Regions from separate parts of the Homo sapiens genome. Here regions 1, 2 and 4 are each linked to region 3. Evidence: fine-mapped expression QTL. A gene starts in region 3. Each other region holds a variant in brackets. All regions are shown on one strand. Distances are from middle to middle. Region 1 overlaps MARCO (macrophage receptor with collagenous structure). Region 2 overlaps MARCO (macrophage receptor with collagenous structure). Region 3 holds the start of MARCO (macrophage receptor with collagenous structure). Region 4 overlaps MARCO (macrophage receptor with collagenous structure).

The links. PIP is the estimated chance that this variant, and not a neighbour inherited with it, causes the effect.
Region 1: its variant is the best candidate, but not a certain one, in a credible set for the expression of MARCO in whole blood (TwinsUK, PIP 0.78).
Region 2: its variant is the best candidate, but not a certain one, in a credible set for the expression of MARCO in whole blood (INTERVAL, PIP 0.82).
Region 4: its variant is the best candidate, but not a certain one, in a credible set for the expression of MARCO in atrial appendage (GTEx, PIP 0.69).

What each region holds. Positions count from the first base shown.
Region 1 is chr2:118,962,941-118,968,091 of GRCh38, forward strand. The region is part of intron 1 of MARCO (macrophage receptor with collagenous structure); the gene reads left to right. Among named protein-coding and RNA genes, the nearest start is that of MARCO, 23 kb to the left of the region's middle. The variant CA/C (reference allele first, on the strand shown) is at 1,947.
Region 2 is chr2:118,968,969-118,974,119 of GRCh38, forward strand. It overlaps MARCO (macrophage receptor with collagenous structure), which reads left to right. Exons shown (of 17, transcript NM_006770.4): 2 at 192-293; 3 at 1,146-1,370; 4 at 2,531-2,566. Among named protein-coding and RNA genes, the nearest start is that of MARCO, 29 kb to the left of the region's middle. The variant C/T (reference allele first, on the strand shown) is at 1,928.
Region 3 is chr2:118,939,348-118,944,498 of GRCh38, forward strand. It overlaps MARCO (macrophage receptor with collagenous structure), which reads left to right and starts at 2,847. Exons shown (of 17, transcript NM_006770.4): 1 at 2,847-3,050. The coding sequence starts at 2,954.
Region 4 is chr2:118,982,164-118,987,314 of GRCh38, forward strand. MARCO (macrophage receptor with collagenous structure) reads left to right here. Exons shown (of 17, transcript NM_006770.4): 11 at 1-91; 12 at 185-247. Among named protein-coding and RNA genes, the nearest start is that of MARCO, 43 kb to the left of the region's middle. The variant G/A (reference allele first, on the strand shown) is at 3,126.

The sequences.
Region 1 (5,151 bases), 24 kb after region 3:
ATAGCACCTGTTTCATTTCTGATATTGGCTATCCGTGTCTTCTTTCATTTTTATTTTTGTTCAGTCTTGCTAGAGATTTGCCAATTTTATTGACTTTGTTCAAAGAGCTAGCTTTTGTTTCATTGATTTTTCTCTATCTTCCTATTTTAAATTTTATTTATTTATATTCTTATCTTTATTATTTCCTTTTCTGGTGATTAGGAGTTATTTTGTTCTTTTCTAATTTCTTGAGGAAAAAACTTAGTGTGTTGATTGGAGGCCTTTTTTATTTTTGGTGTAAGCAGTTCGTGCTATAAATTTTCTTTTCAGAGCTGCTTTTTTTTATCCCATAAATTTTAATATATTGTATTTTCATTTCCTTTCATTTGTATTTTTAAAATTTTTTTGATGCTTTCTTAATGACCCATGCATTATATAGAAGTCCTTTTTTAAATGTTCCAAATGTTTGGAGATTTTCCTGTTGCCTATCCATTGTTGATTTTTATTTTTATTGTATTATTGGCAAATAAGGTATTCTGTATGACCTTGGTTTTTTTTCATTTGGTTGAAATTTGTTTTATGACCTAGGATATCATCTATTTTGGTGTATGTTCCATGTGTCCTTGAAAAGGATGTACATTCTGCTGTTGCTACCTGGAGTATTCTGTGTGTTCATTAGATACTATCAGTCAGTAGTGCTAGTGTTTAGTTCTTCTGTAACTTTGCAGAGTTTCTATCAATTGCTGAAACTACGTGTTAAAGTCTCAACTATAATTGTGTATTGTCTATTTCTTTTTTCAGTTAAATCAGTTTTTGCTTCATGTATTTTGAAGTTCTATTGTTTGATTTCTTATTTATAGCACATTGTTGGATTATGTTTTTTAATACAGTTTGGCAATATCCGTCCTCTGATTTAGACCATTTATACCGAAAGTAATTATTGATATGTCAGTGCTTAAATTGGCCATCTTATTGTGTGTTTTCTGTTTTTTCTTTGTTTCCCATTCATGTATTTCTCTTTTCTTGCCTTCCTGTGGATTATTTGAATAATTTTTAGAATTCCATTTTGATTTATTTATAGTGTTTTTTATTGAATAGTTTTCTTAATGGTTTCTCTACTTATTGCAATATACATATGGAACTTATCGCAGCCTGGCTATTGCAATATACATACAGAACATATCAACATTTTACCATTTTGAGTCAAGTGTAGAAATCTTACTTTCATTTATGTTCTTTAGCCTTCTCCACTTTTTAAATATAATTGTCATTTTCTATTACATTCACTGAACACCACATCAGGTGGTATAATTTTTGTGTTAAAAATCAAATGTGATTTTTAAAACTCATGAGGAGAAGGATGCTGTAGTATATATCCCTATTTTTACTTGTTCTATTATTCTCTTTCTTTTTTGAAATTCTAGTTTACTATATCATTTCCTTTCTGTTAGGGGAACCTCCTCTAGTCATTCTTTAAAGTTAGTTCTGCCAGTAAAAGATTCTCTTCATTTCTCTTCCTCTGAGAGTGTCTTTATTTCTTGTCCATTCCCACAGTGTATTTTTATTGGCAATATAATTCCTGGTTGACAATTCTTCTTTTTCAGAACACAAAATAAGCTGTACCACTTACATCTGTTCTCCATAGTTTCTGATGAGAAACTTTCTGTCATTCAAATTGGTATTCCTGGCCAGGCACAGTGGCTCATGCCTGTAATCCCAGCATTTTGGGAGGCTGAGGTGGGCGGATCTCTTGAGGTCAGGAATTCAAGACCAGCCTGGACATCATAGTGAAACCCTGTCTCTACTAAAAATATAAAAATTAGCCGGGCATGGTGGCGTGCACCTGTAATCACAACTACTTGGGAGGCTGAGGCACAAGAATCACCTGAACCCAGGAGATGGAGGTTGAAGCGAGCAGAGATCATGCCAGTACACTCCAGCCTGGGCGACAGAGTGAGATACCATCT[CA/C]AAAAAAAAAAAAAAAGTATTCCTTTATAAGTAATGTGCCATTTGTCTCTGGCTGCTTTCTAGATTTTTCCTTTTTCCTTAGATGTTTAATTTTCTCTGCCTTTTTATGTTTTCAATGTTTTAGTTATGATGTGTCTTGATATGGATTTCTTTGAGTTTATCATGTTTGCGATTTTGGCAGTTTCTTTAATCTGTAGGTTTAGATCTTCCACGAAATTAGGGAAATTTTTAGCCATTATTTCTTTGAATATTTTTTAAGCCTCACACTTTTTCTAGGAATTAAATGATATGAATTGTAGGTGTTTTGTTACTGGCCCACAGGTCTCTGAGGCTCTGTTCATGTGTGTTTGTTTGTTTTCCCAGCTGATTTTCTGTTTTTCAGACGTGTAATTTCTATTGTTCTATCATCGAGTTAACTGATTCTTTCCTCTGTCACATCTATTACACTATTCAGCTCATCTACCAAGTCTTTTTTCTTTCATTGGTATTTTTTTAGTTCTATAGTTTCCATTTGGTTCTTTTTTTATATGTTGTACTATTTTGGTGAGCTTTTAAAAAATTTGTTTCAAGAATAGTTTTAATTGCTCACTAAGGCATTTTGTTACAGCTGCTTTAAAATTCTTGTGGAATAGTTTTAACATCTGTGTCATCTCAATGCTGGTATCTCTTGATTGTCTCCTCTCATCTGAGTTGTGATTTTCTCTATTCTTTGTATGATGGGTGATTTTCCATTATATAATGGATGTTTTGTATAGTATGTTAGGAGATTCTGAGTCCTATTTAAAACTTCTATTTTAGTAGACAGTCACAGAGTCACACAGTTTAGGTTTATTATGTAGGTTCTGGCCTACTTGTGTGGGCTATGGTACAATGACAATTTAGTTTTCAGAGCCCTGTCCACGTTATTTTGATCCACTTTGTTTACCTGGTGCCATTAGTTCTTGCTGGTCCCCTGCTGGTCCTTCCTGCAAGGCAGAAGGCACGTTCCAGTACTGCCTGGTGCTATCAGGTAGGAAGTGAGATACATCAGGCCCAAAGGGAAGACATTACTTCTCTGGGTCTGCTCACCAGGCAGCCCAGTGCTAGGGTAGAGTGAGGACACCTGCTCAATGTCCACTAGTGTTATAGCACGGGAGGAGGACACCCTACCAGCACTGCCTGCTACCCCAGGAGGTGGCAGACCTGGAGGAGGACACCCTACCAGCACTGCCTGCTACCCCAGGAGGTGGCAGACCTGGAAAGACTAGAATTTGTGTGCAGGCTTTTTTTCTTCACTGGGATCTTTTACAGACTTGAAAAATTATTTTTATTTCCCTCCTGAGCTATGTTTTCATTGTGGGCCAGACAATAGAGCTGTCAAATTTCTGAAACCTGCTTGCCTAAAATCTTTGCCCATACTCATCAAGGTTTACTCCAGGGAAGCCCATTTTTATTTACTAGCAGCTGTTTTTATCCTCTCATGTCAAGCAGCTCTTCCTCTTTGGTCAAACCTGATCCAGAATAGGTGTTTTCTTTATAGTTTCTTCTACCCTCTAAGAGATGAAATGAACAGTGTAGAGGCTAAAGACTTCATCAGACCCTCCATTTTGTACAGAATGAGTTATATAGGTCTACAGGCTCAACATTCCCAGTTTCTAAAATACTTTGCCTCTATGCCAGGTGGTAGCTCTGAATTTAAAAAGCATTCTGGGCCTGGATGGCTATCCATGAACTACTGTCACAGTATTACCATACCTTATTTTTTCTCATTGTATCCTTACTCACATGCCTTCCACCACGCTCTGACCATATGGTTTCAAAATATCTGTATTTTCCATGCTTGCTCCAGCCTCTGACTTCTGTAATACCTGTGTCTCTGAAGCACAATTTACCTTTCCATTCCCATGATGTTTGTTTCATAAAATTTAGTGCTGTCCAAAAACAGTGCTGTCCATGACACTGTATTTGCCAATTTGCCATCCACCACCTCGTGTTAAATGTGAGGCTCCCCTCGTGTGTTATTTGTCTTCATCATGACGGTTGCATGAATACCTGAGGCCCTGAGTTGCATTCCTGATGTTCTTTCAACACTTCTAACTCTGCACATGTTCAGCACCCAAACCTCTGTAGCCACTCATTCATTCATCTATTCAGTCATCATCTTCCCAGCATGTTGTGTGCCAGATACCACGTTGGTGCTGGAATACAGCTCAAAGAGCTTCCAGGCCATTTGGGGAGACAGAGACAAAAACACAATCCAGGGTGATCAGTGCTATGGCAGAGAGAAACAGAGTGATGTGGGAGAGCCAAGGGGGGTTCCACCCAGCCCAGAGGAACCAGAGAAGGTGTCCTGAAGCAGGACGGGCTCTACTGAACTTCCGAAGGATGAGCAGAAATTAGTCTTGTGAAAGGGAAGGAGGAGAGCCAGTATTCAGGGGACACACATTGCCCCAAGTCAGAAGAATGCCACCAGTTGTCATCTGGCCTGGCCATTGGTCAGGATCCATGTGGAGGTGTGACATGGAACTGCAGCCATAGGAGAGCTGGCCAGACGGGCTTCAGGTGCCAGGTTGGGAGCAGTGAGCCCCCACTGAAGGGCTGAGAGCAGGGAATGACTTGGGCAGGTTATGTGTTGTGGGGCTCACTCAGGCTGCTGTGTGAGCCTGGATTCTGGGGGGTAGGGTGCAGAGGAGACGGGGCACTCCATGCTAAACTGAGTATAATCGAGTACCACTAGCTAAACAACCAACCCACCAACAAAACCACTCCTCTCTGTGCTGCCAGAGCTACCCCTAGACCATTGTTCATCTGGGCATTTCTCAAGCAGGGGTCCCTGCTGTGCGGGGGTTGGAAGGAATATCAGCAGGGTAAACACAGGAGCTGCAGGTGATAGGAAAAGATCTGAGGTTTAAGTGCATCTGTCACAATAGTTAAAACCCACCTGCCCCTATCACAAAAGCAAACATGGTTGGGCACACATTCCCTTGGGCTCCTTCATTATTGTCTGTTTCCCTTTCAGATGTGCCCTTGGGGCCCATTTCAACTGGATCTTTCCTAGGGGCAGTGGTCAGTGCAGGCTAGTGAGGCAAGCTCAGGCCTTGAAGCTAGACCAACCTGGGGTCATATGCCTGCTGTGTCACCTGCCACCTTAACTTTTTAACCCCAGCTCTCTCCTCTGTAAAGGAGTGTAACCATGCCTACCTTGCAGGGTTGCTGCAATGGTTA
Region 2 (5,151 bases), 30 kb after region 3:
ACAGTGGCAATTTTTGCTTTGTGGCAAGAAAGAGGATTGGGGGATGATTTGGGAGTCATGAGCTTTTGGTGTCTTTCCCAGCTGACCTCACAGGGTGCCCCCTGCTCACATGGAGTAGGGCCTGGAGCAGGCAGGGACTTCCTGTGCTGTGTTCTCTGCAGCAGCCTCCTTCCTCCTGGCTTGTGTTTCAGTTCCAAAGCCCAAGAGGAGAAATGGGGTGAACTTCTCCCTAGCTGTGGTGGTCATCTACCTGATCCTGCTCACCGCTGGCGCTGGGCTGCTGGTGGTCCAAGGTAAAGCAGGCTTGGTCCTGTGTAGTCCCTCCTGGGGGGAGAGGGGTGACCCAGCTGGGCCCCTCAGATGAAGGGCTCAGGTTGAGTGGAGAGCCTCGGGCCACTGCTCCCATCTGCTGGGAGACAGTCTCAGCCCCTGGCAGCCACAGTGATGAGAGGAGCAAAGAAGGAGTGTATGTTGTGTGTATGTGTGCCTGAGGGAGGGAGAGAGAGAGACATTGAGAATGCTCTTGTGAGCCTATGTGTCTAAGCAGTGAAAGACATCATAATTTCACACGGGGGATGACACACACTTCTGACATCTAAGACTCCCAGCCTCTGAGTGGGAAGGGCTTTGCTGATCCAAGTGTCCATTTGAACATGATTTTACTTTTGAAGTATTCCCAATCTAAAGGTTAAAGTCATGAAGTCGTTCCATGAGCAGACACTGAAGTCACTCAAGAACGCTGAATGAGCAGTTGTCATAAACACGTCTTGTGTGTATTAAGATCACACACGAATGCTGCTTGCACATATTTAGGTCAGACCAGCATGTTAGCTGTCATGCATCTACACCCAGAGCATGCAGGAAGGTCTTAACTGCCTGAAGGTTGGAGATTGATTGTGGATGCAGTAGGCACAGCTTTAGGCCACGCAGAAATGTTTTGTGGACGTGCAATATCATGCCTGAGTGTGGAGCGCACATGGTCAAGATGTAGAAAAGGCCGTGTGCTCACGCTAGGTCCTGACAGCACATGGAATTTGTGTTTACAAATTCAGGGCCTGTAGAAGTTATGCACACATGACACAAGAATGTCAGGGATATGCTCAAATGCCTCAGTCCCTAAAAGAATGCTGTGGGGTGGGGCCCAGTTCTGAATCTGCAGGCGCGGCTCCGGGTCCTGGAGATGTATTTCCTCAATGACACTCTGGCGGCTGAGGACAGCCCGTCCTTCTCCTTGCTGCAGTCAGCACACCCTGGAGAACACCTGGCTCAGGGTGCATCGAGGCTGCAAGTCCTGCAGGCCCAACTCACCTGGGTCCGCGTCAGCCATGAGCACTTGCTGCAGCGGGTAGACAACTTCACTCAGAACCCAGGTTTGGCCTCCTCCCCTCTGGGTCAGGACTTCTCAACAGAGGTCTGGGAGACAGCGGGATCAGGAACCAGGAAATTAAGGACCCTGTCCAAGCAAAGTGTGACCTCCAAGAGCCAGGGACTTAGAGCAACCAGCTCAATGCCAAGTCTGAACCCAGAGTCCCCACATGGATCCAGAATGTCTGGGAGGGAGGGTAAAACACAGAGCCTGGGGCGGTTCCCTGGACCACTCCCCCACAGCTGACTTACACTGACATGAGGTTGGGGAGAGAGCAACTGAAGGCACCAAACTAGTTCAGACAATGTGGGGACTTTGTGGGGAGGAGGACACCCGGACCTGCTGGGGGAAAGGTGGTGACTTGGGTGGTAGGGCTGCAGGCTGGGGAAAATTGAGCCAAGGGTTAAAACCCCAAGGGTGCCCCTTCCCTCGGTGCTCTCAGGGCCTTGCAGCTGCACCCTCTCCTCTCTCAGCCTGCCCCAAAATGGGAAGAGCCTCGCCCTCAGACAGTTTCAGCAAAACCAGCTGCTAGGTGTGGCTCAACTGTTGTAGGGTTTACCC[C/T]GTGACACAGAGCTCCAGCCCCAGCAGGGTTCCTTGCTCTGGGCCCTGTGTGAGCTGAGGCTTAGGAGGGTGATCCCATGGCTAGGTCCTGTGACCAAGGGGTACGCCCAGCACGGGACCCAGGAGGCCAATCCCTCCAGAGGCTGTGGCCTCCCCAGGGAGAAAAGACGAAGGCTGAGTGGGGGTGTGAGGAGGGGCGATAGCTGTGGGCAGATGGAAGGAGTCCACGTTCAGACACAGACACCATGGGAGTGTCTCTTCCTTCCTTGAAATGTGAAGGAGCTCATTTTGACCAATACGAAGGGGTTCTACCTCCTCAGGCTGGTTTGAAGCAACCTCCTTTCCCCACCTCCAAGACTCCCAGGGATCTACAGGTCTCGGGGTGCAGTCCGCTAGTTGCAGCTGAGCATCTGGCTCTTTCCAAGGACTCTTTCCCAAAAAACAGCCAGGTGCTTGGCTCCTGTTGTCCAAACCCCCACAGTCTGATGGGAGCCCCACACAGGAGGGCTTACCCTCCCACTGCAGAACCTGGGCACTCTCAGTTGGGGCTTGGGCCAAGGGTACCCCACAGCTCAGCTGCAGCTCACTCTCCTTCCCTTGCAGGGATGTTCAGAATCAAAGGTGAACAAGGCGCCCCAGGTAGGTTCATTTCCACTCACACCCACCCTGCTCTTTCCCCAAAACCTCCCCAAAAGGGCCCCTTGGCCTGTGCCATTCTGGGTCTGGACAGCTGACCCTAGCTTACCTTCCCCTGTCTCCACAGCCTCCTTTGTCTTCAGTTGGGTCTCCTCTCTGTTCCCAGAACTTAACTGGACTCCCAGACCCTGGGCTGTCATCCCCCTCCTTACTTAAAGAGGCTTCCTCTCTCCACTCCCCCATCCAAATCTAGCTACCTTCCCAGGCCAGACCAGGCATCATCTGGCTGCCAGGGCAGCCTCTCTCCTGGTTTCCTGTAAGCATTCCTTCCAGGTGACTCTTACCTACCACATACATAGCACTTCCCACCAGAGGTGCTGTGCTCATTTCCATGGTGTCTCACTCCTCTCTCCTACAGGGCAGTAATGATGGGAGGCAGGTGTCATGGAGGCGCAGGCTGTGCGGTCAGGCCGATCTGAGTTCTAATCCTGGGCCTGGGGCTTACTGGCGGTGTGACTCTGGGTCAGTTACTTAAGTTTTCTGGAGCCCCAGCCACTCACCTGTGTAGGAAGCAGTGGAGATAATCGACTCGCCTCACAGAGTTGCTGTAGGACTCAAGGGAGTGCAAAAGCTGTCTGACAATGGCATGTGCTCTCTGAGGACAAGGCTATGGTTGTTTGCCTTTTCTTCCTGCCTCAACCCACATGTGTTGTGTTACACACACGCTTCACTCACAGCCCTGTTCCATTTCATCTGCTGAGTGGTTGAAATTTCCCCCTGAGGATAAATATACATGCCATTTTTGGGACAGAATCCTTTGGTCCCATAATATTTCAAGGATGGCCCAGATCACACCATTGGCCAGGGAGGGTTTTGAGGCAGCCTTGCAAAGTGATGGAAGCAGGGACTTGGGAGACTGGTGGGCCTACAGAAAATCCTGGATCTGCCCCTGTAAACTGGGTGGCCTTGAGTAAGTCACCTAACATTTCTGAGCTCTATGTCCTCCCCCGTAAGATGGAGATATGGTAGGACTTCCTAGGATTGGTGTCAGGATAAAACAATAAATGTACACCTCTTAGTCCAGTGTCCAGCAAAGAGCAAGTACTCAATGATGTTCTTGTCTTCGTTATTATTATGACTATTATTTGCTATTGTTATATATGGTTGTTATTCTGTTATTCTTGAGAAAACTAAATGCTGCTGCTAGGAGAGCCTCCAGCCTGATGAATGCTGGCTCCTCTCCTTTAAGGAGGGGCAGTTTCAACAATTTCAATTGCTTTTGCTGACAGAATCAATGCTTAAACTTCTTCTCAACCCAATGGGTTCAGTACAACCTTCAAAATCTGCCTGTCACCCGCCCTAGGCACAGTGCTGCCCACCTCACCCCAGAGCACAGAACATGGCTTCTATGGCTCTCTCTCTCTCTGTATGAATATAGATGTGCGTACATAGAGGAAAACTCCAACTCTCTCTCTCCATGTCTCTCTCTCTGTCTCTCTGAATATAGATGTATGTACATAGAGAAAAACTCCAACTCTCTCTCTCCATGTCTCTCTCTCTGTCTCTCTGAATATAGATGTATGTACATAGAGAAAAACTCCGACTCTCTCCATGTCTCTCTCTCTGTCTCTCTGAATATAGATGTATGTACACAGAGAAAAACTCCAACTCTCTCTCTCCATGTCTCTCTCTCTGTCTCTCTGAATATAGATGTATGTACATAGAGAAAAACTCCAACTATCTCTCTCCATGTCTCCCTCTCTCTCTCTCTGAATATAGATGTATGTACATAGAGAAAATCTCCAACTCTCACTCTCCATGTCTTTCTCAGTCTCTCTCTGTCTCTGACTTCTGTCTCTCTCTCTCTCTCTCTGTCTCTTCCCACTCTTTCTTTTTGTGCCCAGAAACCAGAGACAGGAAACTTCTTCCAGCAGCTGGGGCTATAGAAGTCTCGGCTCCTCCTCGGACACCACCTGCCTCTCCAGATTCCCCGCCCATCACCCTTTCCCACCCAGGGAGGCTGTGTTCTCTCCCCTTCCCCATGGCTTGCCTTGCCTGGTCAAGACTTCCCAGAGGTTCCTTTGTTGAAAAGGCTCCAGAGACAAATAGGTGGGTGGGGGAGGAGGGCTGGGTGTGGAACCCAGAAGTCATGGTCTCACTGGAGGCAGCCTGCCGGTGGAACTGCCTTCCCACGCAGGCTGCCTGGAACACAGTCAGGGGAACTGCTCCTCAGCCAAGCTTCAGGGAAGGGGATTGCGAAACCCACTTGCCTCTCTGTTTCTCTCCCCTATCCATCCTGGACTTCTTTCCTTCCTCCCAACAAATACCTATTGAAAGTTCCATGAGGATGAGAAGTCGCATAGGCACTGGGGATCCAGACATGAAGAAGACAGACAAGGCCCTGCCCTTGTGAGCCTTCCTGTGAGCTTGCCTTGTGTGTTTTCCATGATGGTCCCCACGTGGTAATCTCAGGACATCCCTGTGTAATTAGTACACTAATTCCATCTTACTGATGAGGGAGCTGAGGCTCAAAATGATGATGTAACTTGCACAAGGTCACCCAGCTAAAGGGGCAGTGCTAACACCTG
Region 3 (5,151 bases):
GTATGACACGCTCTTTTGATATAAAATGCTATTCTGCATATAGAACTTTTGTTTACAAATGTACTTACTCATTTATTATTTTATTTGATCCACACATCCACTCTATGGGTAAACACGGCAACTCTGGGCATCCCATTTTGTAATGGGGATGCTGAAACACAGAGCTAATGAGAGGGCCAGGACTAGGGTAAGCAAATGAGGAGGGTCATTGTACGTGCAAAGTGGGATTCTGTCTTCCTTTAAAATGATGATATTTTGTTCATCGCAGAATTTTTGCATTAACTTTGATTTTTTAAATATATTGCACTAAAATATTATTTATCTTGATTATTGAATCTTTTGTACTCAAGGCTAGTGAATTATTTGCTTCATCCTAATCCCTGAGTCTCAGGCCCTGCAAGGTGAATGGATTAGCTTGAGTCATATAAAGTATCCATTTATTGCATATGAAAAACAGATAAATATCTGTCATTCCATATGATTCAACCTAATGGATCCTCCTAGGATGGAGTCAGGAGGCCACACTGCACATGAGTGCTTCAATTATACCACTCGGTGGTCCTAAGCCTGGTGCACATTAGAGCTCTTTCTGAAATTTTTATTAAAACCAGAGCCTCAGGTTTGGGATGGGAAACTGGCATTCCTCTACTGCAAACCTCTGGATTGGAACCCCTGGATTAAACCAGAATTAAATCAGTCTATAGATTGAGGCAGAGAGTCTGGATTCAAATTCTGGTGTAGCTCTTTATAACCACACAATTTAAGGCAAGTTGCAAGTTATGAGTGTTGAGCAATGTATGCAAATGTTTAGCACAGTGTCTGGCATTAACAGTAAATCCTGGATAGGAATTAATGCTTGCACAAGCCATTACTCTGTGTGGAAGTTCAGAGAAGTAAGTCAACCAAGGTCACACAGAAAGTTAATGAAAGAGTTGAATTTGGGACCCAAGTCTCTCTGGTCTCTAGCCAGAGGTGAAGTGACTACACTTGACATCCACTAAGTGCTTCCTTTAAGAACAGGGATCCTCAATAATTAGCCCATGACATTTTCTAATAAGTCCCCTCCCCACACCCATGAGAATCAAAGATGAGCTGACCAGGCAGAGGCAGAGGGAGAGCAGGGAGCTCTGCCAGGCTAAGTGAGCGGGTTCCTTTGCCTAGGGGACTGCCCTCCAGTGGGCAAATCCCCTGTGTCCTCAATTATCTGGTCCTGTCTACCCCCCAGACTCTAGCTGGAGCCATCACTTCCTCATTTCCAATTTTCCTCTTTAAATTTTTCTGTCCTGGCTTCTGCTGCTTGTCCTCTGGCGGAACCAGTGACTTCCTGAATGTTGAAATTGTGGGCGCCACGGGGGACCTCTGCTTTTCAGGGCACTGCTAGGAGCTCACTTTCCTGAGTTTCATCCCCTTTCACTTTCTGACATACCACGGGCCAAAGAAAGTGACTTCGCCTGGCACAGCTTCACTTCCTGCCACCTGTCTTCCTCACCTCTTACATTTCAAATAGGCCAAAAGTCTACGGCTCCCCTGCTCCAGGCTGTCCCACCTCTGAGAGGCTGCACCTGCCCTCCTTCCTCCCTGGAGGGCCTTTGCCTCATCTTGATCTGGATCAATCCCCCATTATCCTTTTAAGCCCAGCTCTGGTATCTGATATCTCTTGATTCAGATGATAAAGCTATTTGTCATATTTCTGCCCTGTCTCCCCTGCCTCCCGGCACTTCTGTCTTTTCAGGGACATCAACCTTTGCCGCACTTCACAGCAATTTTCTGGAATGTAGTTGTAGCCGCAACCATCTTGCATGGTAGACTGTGAATATCTTTCATGAAAAAAGGCCATTTCTTCATCTCCTCGGTGCCCAGCAGGCTCACAATGTCTCTAATGATAATAACAACAACATGACCATAGTGTTTATTACCTAATACTTCCATCCTAGCCACCTTATATGATTTAATTCATTTAAGGCTCACGAAATTCATATCTTCCTTATTTATACAAACAGAAGAGTGAGATGCTCAAAGCTCAAGTGATTTGCCTACTGCCAGACAGCCCCTATGTGGAAGAGGTGGAATTTGAAGCCAGGCATTCTAGCTCTTAGTGTCTGTGTCTTAACCACCATGCTATACAGCATCCCTGGTAGAGATGCCTGACGGGAGGGAGAGAGGGGAGAAGCTACTTTCCTTAAGGAGCTCAGATCTCACTGGGGCCTGGACAAGGACACCTGTAACACATGTACACATGTGCACACATGTGTACACACACAGAGAGAGAACATGGGAAAACTACAAGAAGAAATACTAAGTGCTAAAATGTGTGGTTCAGAGCAAGGCTTCTCAAACTGTAATGTGTATATAAATCACCTGGGGATCTAGTTAAACTGTAGATTTGGATTTGATCTGATGGGGTGGGACCAGAGACTCATTGTTAGAACAAGTGAACTTGCATTTCTAACAAGTTCTCAGGTGATACTAATACTGCTGGTCCATGGACCACACTTTGAGCAGCAAGGATGAACTCTAAAGGTTGAGGCAGGTCAGAGAAGGGAGATTTCACTGTGGGCTGGAGAGGTCCTGGGACAGAGAGCTGAGTCTGGGCCCATGGCAGGGCTTGGTTGGCCCTCTCTGGAGCCATCCAGCTTTTGGGTCTCAGGGACCTGGGAGTGACGGGTGCATTCAGAGGCCCGTAACTTGTGTCCCAAAGCCTCCTCGATCCCCCTTAACAAGCAGCAGCACTGTGTGGGAGATCCACATGTGAATAGCCCGTGTTTGAGAAATGTCCAATCCTGATCATGTCAGGAAACATCCTGCAAATTCTGAAATCAGAGCCAAAGGGAAGTGCTGCGAGGTTTACAACCAGCTGCAGTGGTTCGATGGGAAGGATCTTTCTCCAAGTGGTTCCTCTTGAGGGGAGCATTTCTGCTGGCTCCAGGACTTTGGCCATCTATAAAGCTTGGCAATGAGAAATAAGAAAATTCTCAAGGAGGACGAGCTCTTGAGTGAGACCCAACAAGCTGCTTTTCACCAAATTGCAATGGAGCCTTTCGAAATCAATGGTAAAGTACGATTCCCCAATAATGGAAATGACCAGAAATGTAGTCTTTCTGCTAGCGAGATACGAAAATAGACAAGTCAATAGAAAGTCTAGGTTTGGCTTATTGCTGCATTTTGCACGTAATCATCACTAATACTGTCTGGAGTGCTTCAATTTGGAATTTCTGGAATGCTAATAATAGATGCTGTATTTTTAGCATATAGTCAGGTTTTTCTTAGCTTCACTATTGTTTTAATCATATTTAAATATTTTCCCTTGAAAAAATGCCAATGCTTATTAAATGTCCCCTTTTTTTAATGAATGTCTTATTCTGACACACAGGTTGGGTGATACAATGAAAACGCAAAACAGGGGCACTGAAAGGGGACCACAAAACTGAAGCCAAGCATGACAGTTTTCAAAACACAGCTTCTTTAAAATTCTTTAAGGGGATTTCTGTTATAACTGATGTGCTGGTCAGGAAACATATTCTGTATTTCATGTTGACTGAAATATGTTCATAGCTTCATAATTAGTTTGTCTTAGGTTAAACTCAGGTCTGTAATATTCAGTCAACTCTGTTGTCTTTATTTTCTCACTCAGCATTCAACAGGTGATGCATTTTTAAAATCTTCTAGAATTTGTAGCATTTGAAGTCATGGGTGGGCTTGCATTCCACAAATGAGCTCTGATTTCCTAGTCTAGAACGTTCTCTTGGGATCATCTTCCAAGTTGATCAGTCATTTCCACTCCCAGGCTTTGCTGGAAGTTGTCTATGCAGGAAAATTGGTGGCTTTATCTCCTGGCCAGAGTGTCCTTCTCATCCCACACCTGTCTGCCCAGGTCCCTGCCTGGAATTTTCAGCGCACAAAGATGAAGCGTCTGGGGCTCTGCCTCTAGGAATTTACAGTGTAATAACAGAGAAAGGTGTGAGTGCTAATGGCTATAATAATCATTGGCTATTTAGAACTTCTCAGAATGCAACATTCTGGATACATGACTGTTTAAGAGACTGAAGATGTTCAAGCAAAGTCAGCTGATCAAGCATACTCAGCACCTATTTCCAGCAGGGCACTGCACTCAGCACTGAGGAAACAGGCTTGAATAAACATAGCCTCTGGCCTCTGGCTTCTGGCACGAGGGGACAGGGGACAGGGTAAGCTGCCCATGAACTGACAATTTCCATGTTGTGACTGAGACTTCCACAGGACATGATGGACAGATCTAACCAGGTGTAGAGCCCTGGAGGGCAGAGCTGACACCTCTTCCAAAGTTTAAAGGATAAAGGGAGTCCGTTAGAGAAAGAAGTTAGTGCCTGGGGCGGGGTGGGCGCCACATGTTTGTATTGTATTCACAAGAAATATTCAGAGAAATATAAATACTTCCATACTGTTTGGCCAAAATTGGGACGGAAAGACCAGTGGGGACTGAGGCTGGAACCAAAAAATTTGACTTCATCCTGAGGTCAGTGGGGAAGCAGGAAGGGGCCGATGTGGGGCTGAAAGGCACTAATGTGCATGTGAGGTTGCTCTTTGTCCTACATAGGGATGGCTGGAGAGAGAAGCTGAGGACAGAGAGGAACTTGGCAGCAAGAGATGATGAGGGGCAGTGGATGGAAGGCAGGAAAATAAAGGAATGCTCTGGAGAAACACCGGAAATCAGATCAATTGGACTGCAATGGCAGGACAGGGCTGGGGAGGAAGACGCAGGAGTTAATAGTGAACCCTAGATTTCTGACCTGGGTTGTGTGTGTCACCAATTAAAAATGTAACTAAGCCAGTGCAGGAGGATTCCTTGAGCCCAGGAATTTGAGACCAACCTGGGCAACATAGTGAGACCCTATCTCCACCAATAAATAAATAAATAAAATGTTTAAAGTATCTCACCAAAAAACCAAAACTACTCCAATTTGGATGAAAGAAACATTTTCTTATATGCATTCACAACATCCTGCCTTCTAATACAAAGATTGTGGAACATATGAAACTTTCTAGAAGAGTGCCATTATGCAGGTAATCACTGTGAGGCTCTGGTAACACAGTGACCCCTCAGGGCCGGCTCTGCACATTACTTATTTTTTGTCTGCTGAAGATTTATTTATTTAGGCCATATATAGTTTTATT
Region 4 (5,151 bases), 43 kb after region 3:
GGACTGCAGGGTGTTCCGGGCCCTCCTGGTGCAGTGGGACACCCAGGTGCCAAGGGTGAGCCTGGCAGTGCTGGCTCCCCTGGGCGAGCAGGTGAGGTCCTGGGTCCTATGGTGGGCACAGGGAGTGATGTGTGAAAACCTGCCTAGTCCAGCCCTTATGCTCTCTGTGGTGTCTGTTGTCCAGGACTTCCAGGGAGCCCCGGGAGTCCAGGAGCCACAGGCCTGAAAGGAAGCAAAGGGGACACAGGTAACAGAGGGTGCAGTGGGTGAGTAGGTGGGCTTGCTGGGTGGCAGGATGGATGGAGAGAAAAACTGCTTCTTCTTAGGCCCACGGAGGAGGCAGAGGGTCTTCTGTGCCTTGGCCTCTGAGGTTCCTGGTTATGGGGGCAGTTGCCCCTGCCAGGACCCCTTAAGCCCAAGGGCCTAGGGCTGTTCTTTCTCTTCTCAGAGCTCATGAAAGTCCTTGAATGCCATGACCAAACCTCCAGCATCACGGAGGAGAGCAAAGCACCTTGCCCATACCATCTCCCTGGTCTGCCTCCCAGCTGTACGTTTCTGCTGTCTCCTGCTAACCCTTCATTGGGGCCCCTAAGAGGGGGTCCAAGAGTCTAGATTCAGGCTGGAGGGTCCAGAAAACTCTTCTTCCACATTTTCCTAGGGGGGCAGCCTGGGAGCACTGACCCACACTAGCCAAAGACTAGTTTATACCATAATGCCAACAGAGTCTAGGTTAGTCTAGGTTATATACCATCATGTCTATTTAGTCTAGGTCGTAAACCATTGTACCAATATAGTCTACTTTATAAGCCGTTTTGGTCCAGTCACAGTGTGCTTGCTTGGTCTAGAAAGTCCAGACCACTATCACAATGCATAAGATCAATTCCTGCCTTTCTGCCCTGACATGCAGGGTATTGCAGTGAACAGAGACTGTTGCCAGATGATGTGGGCACACTCTGATTGGGCATTTCTGTGGAGAACTGTTGCACATTGGAAAGCCAAGAGCGGGCAGGAGGGGCAATGGGGAAGGCAGGGTTGTGATGTAAAGCTGCATGTCTGCCAAGGACATCTGTAGACAGTCTGCCTCCACCCCTGTCCTCTGCCTGAGAAGGTCACGCTTGTGTCAGACAACCTGGATGCCCTCACCCCCGTGCTGTGCTAGAGACCTACACTGGGACCTGGCCCTCCACAGCTCTAATCAATTGATTGATTCATTCATCACCACCTCCTGGCAAACCTTGGGCTCTGGGCTTGAGCTTTTGTGTTTCTTTGAAAGCTGTCGGGAGCCATGGCAAGCGCAGTTTTACACCCTCTCTGTCCTTGTAATCTGTCGAGCCCCAGAGCAATTGTGTTTTTTATGGACAGTGTGTTTGGGAGGATCCCTGCTACCTGATCCCATGTGGATGCCACCTGAAGGCCACTAGCTGGGTCTCACCATAGGAAAGTTTCCATCTGGGTATAGTCGTCAGATGTTCCTGACTTGTTCACTGTCCATTCTGATCTTATAATTCCATCTTCTCTGGTCCCCAGTCTCAGAGTCCATCTGACTATGAGACCTGATGCTCTCTTGCCCCTGAGCCTTCTGTGTGATTTCATGGAGATGATTGCTTTCATCTCTCGGTTGTAAATAGTAGTCACCCTCTGCCCCCACCCCCACTGCCAGACTAACGGTTCTCAACTAACCAAGAGTATTGGAGGTAAAACATGATTTTACCCACAGGAGCATTGTGCTTACTCCCCAAGCCCCAAGCTTGTGTCTTCCACAGTCTGAGGGTAGGGAATCCTGCCCTGCCCTTTGCATCCTGGGAGGATTTGCAGAACAAAAGCAGCTCCTGCTAATGAGCATCTTCTTGACACCCAGTGGGACAAGCACTCTTTGTAGCACAACTTTACGGTCAAACAGCCATTAAGAGATGCAGCCAGGTTCAAATCTAGGCCAGTACAAGACAAAGCTTGGGATCTTATTAGTACAGTCTATCATGAGTTCTCCCTCCCCAGCCCCACAATCAGGGTGTGCTGATGAGTGACACCTCCTCCCTTCATCCCAGTTCAGAAAGGATCAGAGCAGAAGGTAGCAGCTTGTTCCATTCCTGGGAAGAAACATGAAGCTTTCAGGCCCTATCATGGTTCTTAGTTATTTAACCAGGACCCCACACCCATTTTAGCAAAAGACTTTTGGCCCATAGCTTGGGGATCATTTTAATTTCATCCTCATCGAGACCTTTTATATCTGCTGAATACCCTTATGGAGTTCTCCAATAATTAGGCCTAGTGGTGAGTACCAGCCAGCAAATTCTAGGGGTTACCCTTAATTCTGGCTGACCAAGTAAACATGAGGAAGTGCATTTCAATTTGGGGCTTGTGATAATTCCCGTTTATCTAAAACTGTGCAGGTTGCCCACCCGAGTCCAAATGTTTTCCTTGATTTAGTAGCTGACAGTCCACATGGACATCTCAGAGGGGAATTCCAATAGGACCATAATCTGGCTAATTTAGCTGGGTATGTAGATCATCCTGGAGTCATAGGCTAATAAACTTCCGGAGAGATTAGATTTGACAACTTCTGAAGTGGGAGAAGCAGGGGCAGGCAGAGGGTGGGAGCCCAATCTCCCCATCATGGAGCACAGTGTATACTTGTCAATGTCAGGATGTCGGTATTCCCCAAACTAAAGCCACTGCAGTGCTTGGCCAGTGTTGATATATCAAGCCAGGTTTCCAAACTGATGTATTTCCCATTTTGTAAATAAAATCGTTAATCTCTCAAGAGAATATCTAGCCACTTTAGATGAAAACAGAAAAATTACAGTGCGTTGGCTTGACCTAGGTGACAGCTAGGTTTCATTACTGCGCATTAATTATTTTAAAAACATGAGCGGTCTGTTCATTATTATCAGTGCCTCTGGGCCAGGCACTGTGCCTGGGTCTTGACTCCCATGATCACACTGAACTTATCATTCCTACTTTACAAACAAGGAAGCAAAGGCTCAGAGAGAGTAAACCCTTTGCTCACAGTGTCACAGGGAGCATGAACTGAATTCAGAAGTGAATCCCAAAGTCTGATTCCAGAGTTGTGCTTTTCCAGAATCGGTTTTATGGAAGAACGTAGAGTGTATGATTTGAGAGAAATC[G/A]GTTACCTTCACCCTGTCCCCACCCCAGCCACACCTCCCACTCCTCCATAAATGGGTAAATCCTGGCTTGGTCACCAAGCCTTTCTACCTCCTCCACAGCCACTGACCACACTCTACCCCATTCAGGTGAAATGCTTCCTCTTGTTTGCATCTCTTGAGAGAGGAGCCAGCTCATATTAAAGAAGACAAAGAGGAAATTCTTCCCATTCTGGTGGGAAGATAACCTCCACAGTTTATTAAGCAAGGCACCATACCCTGCAGAACCTTCTCTCAGGGTCACTTTTTTTACCTACTAGAAACAGACCCTGTCCAGCCTCCATCACTTAGTATTTCTAACATTTTCACTTTCAAAGATTGCAGAAGAATAATCCAATTTTAGCTCTACATGTCTTAGCTATTTTGAAATAATATTTATTTAGAAATAAGGAAGGACTCCACTTCGGCTTGTAATCATGACATTTCTCTTTTTACCATTTACACCTCATGAAATAACATTAGAAGCAGCCAAAACATTTAAACTCCAAAACACCAATCTGATTGGAAATTCTTTATCTCAATGGCCTTTATGTCTAAACTATAGCAATGTGAATTTTCCATGCCCTTTTATTTTCCTCTTGGGGCAAAACCGAAGTGCAAATAACTCAAAATCCATTTTCTCATCTGTATTTGAAGATGTTTTACTTTAAAGATAAGCCAAAAAGATCATCCATAATAGCAATTGAGCCCTATGTCATGAATATAATTTCTTAGTTAATTCCATTCCTTATATCTAAGTTCTGAGATAGTCCAATAATTTATTAAATTCTACTAAGTCAAATCACTAAATTGTCATTTATAAAACTCTTCCTCATTTTCCTCTAAGTTTCTGAGAGAGCTTTGCAGAAGTCTACACATACCCCAATTTTGAGTCCCTTATCCTTCATCTCACTTCTTACCACAAGGTCGATTTGTCAGTTATTAGCTCAATCCTAAATTTGCCAGGTTGCATCTAGCCTCCAAGTTGGCATGGTATTTAGGAAAGTTTCCCCAGACGGGGCAAGACAGCAATGTCCCCCTCTCTACAAAACATAAAAAAATTAGCTGGGCATAGTGGCATGTACCTGTAGTCTCAGCTACTCAGGTGGCTGAAGGAGGAGGAGAAGGATCACTTGAGCCAAAGAATTTGAGCCTGCAGTGAGCTATGATTGCACCACTGCACTCCAGCCTGAGCAACAGAGTGAGACCCTGTCAAAAAGAAGAAAGAAAGAAAGAGAGAGAGAGGAAGGAAGGAAGGGAGGGAGGGAGGGAGGGAAGGAAAGAAGAAAGAAAGAAAGAAAGAAAGAAAGAAAGAAAGAAAGAAAGAAAGAAAGAAAGAAAGAAAGAAAGAAGGAAGGAAGGAAGGAAGGAAAGAAAGAAAGAAAGAAAGAAAGAAAGAAAGAAAGAAAGAAAGAAAGAAAAGAAAGAAAGAAAGAGAAAGAAAGAGAAAGAAAGAAGAAAGAAAGAAAAGAAAGAGTGTGAGAGAAAAGAAAAGAAAGGGAAAGAAAGAAAGTTTTCTTAATGTATTGGAGATTTCTCCATTTCACTCAGAATCAGGAGATCTGAGCCTCAGCTTGAACTTACCCCTGACTAGCTGAGTGACCACAGGCTCAGCTACTTGACGTTGCTGAGCCTGTTTCCTTTTCTGTGGCGTGCAAGCAGTATAGAAGAACACCAGGTCCCTGACAGTTTCACAGCACTCTGGGTTTGAAATAGGCAGCTTCCCTGGGAGCAGGAACAATTGAAGACTTTAGTCAGAACACCAGCTCAACACTAAACAACTGGAAGGCATATGTTTTCTAACTTAACACACATTTCTTGGGAGAATATTATTTCTGTAAAAACACTTTGCAAGTAAATATTTGGAACCCTTTCAGCTTGATAAGCTTGTGATACTTGGGGAAAGCCAGCTTGCTTATGGTTAAGAAGAAAAATCCAGCATTTATTTGCTCTCCAGCGTAGTTTTACAACATGCAGCTCTAGAACCTATTTTTTAGCCATTTCTCCCTCT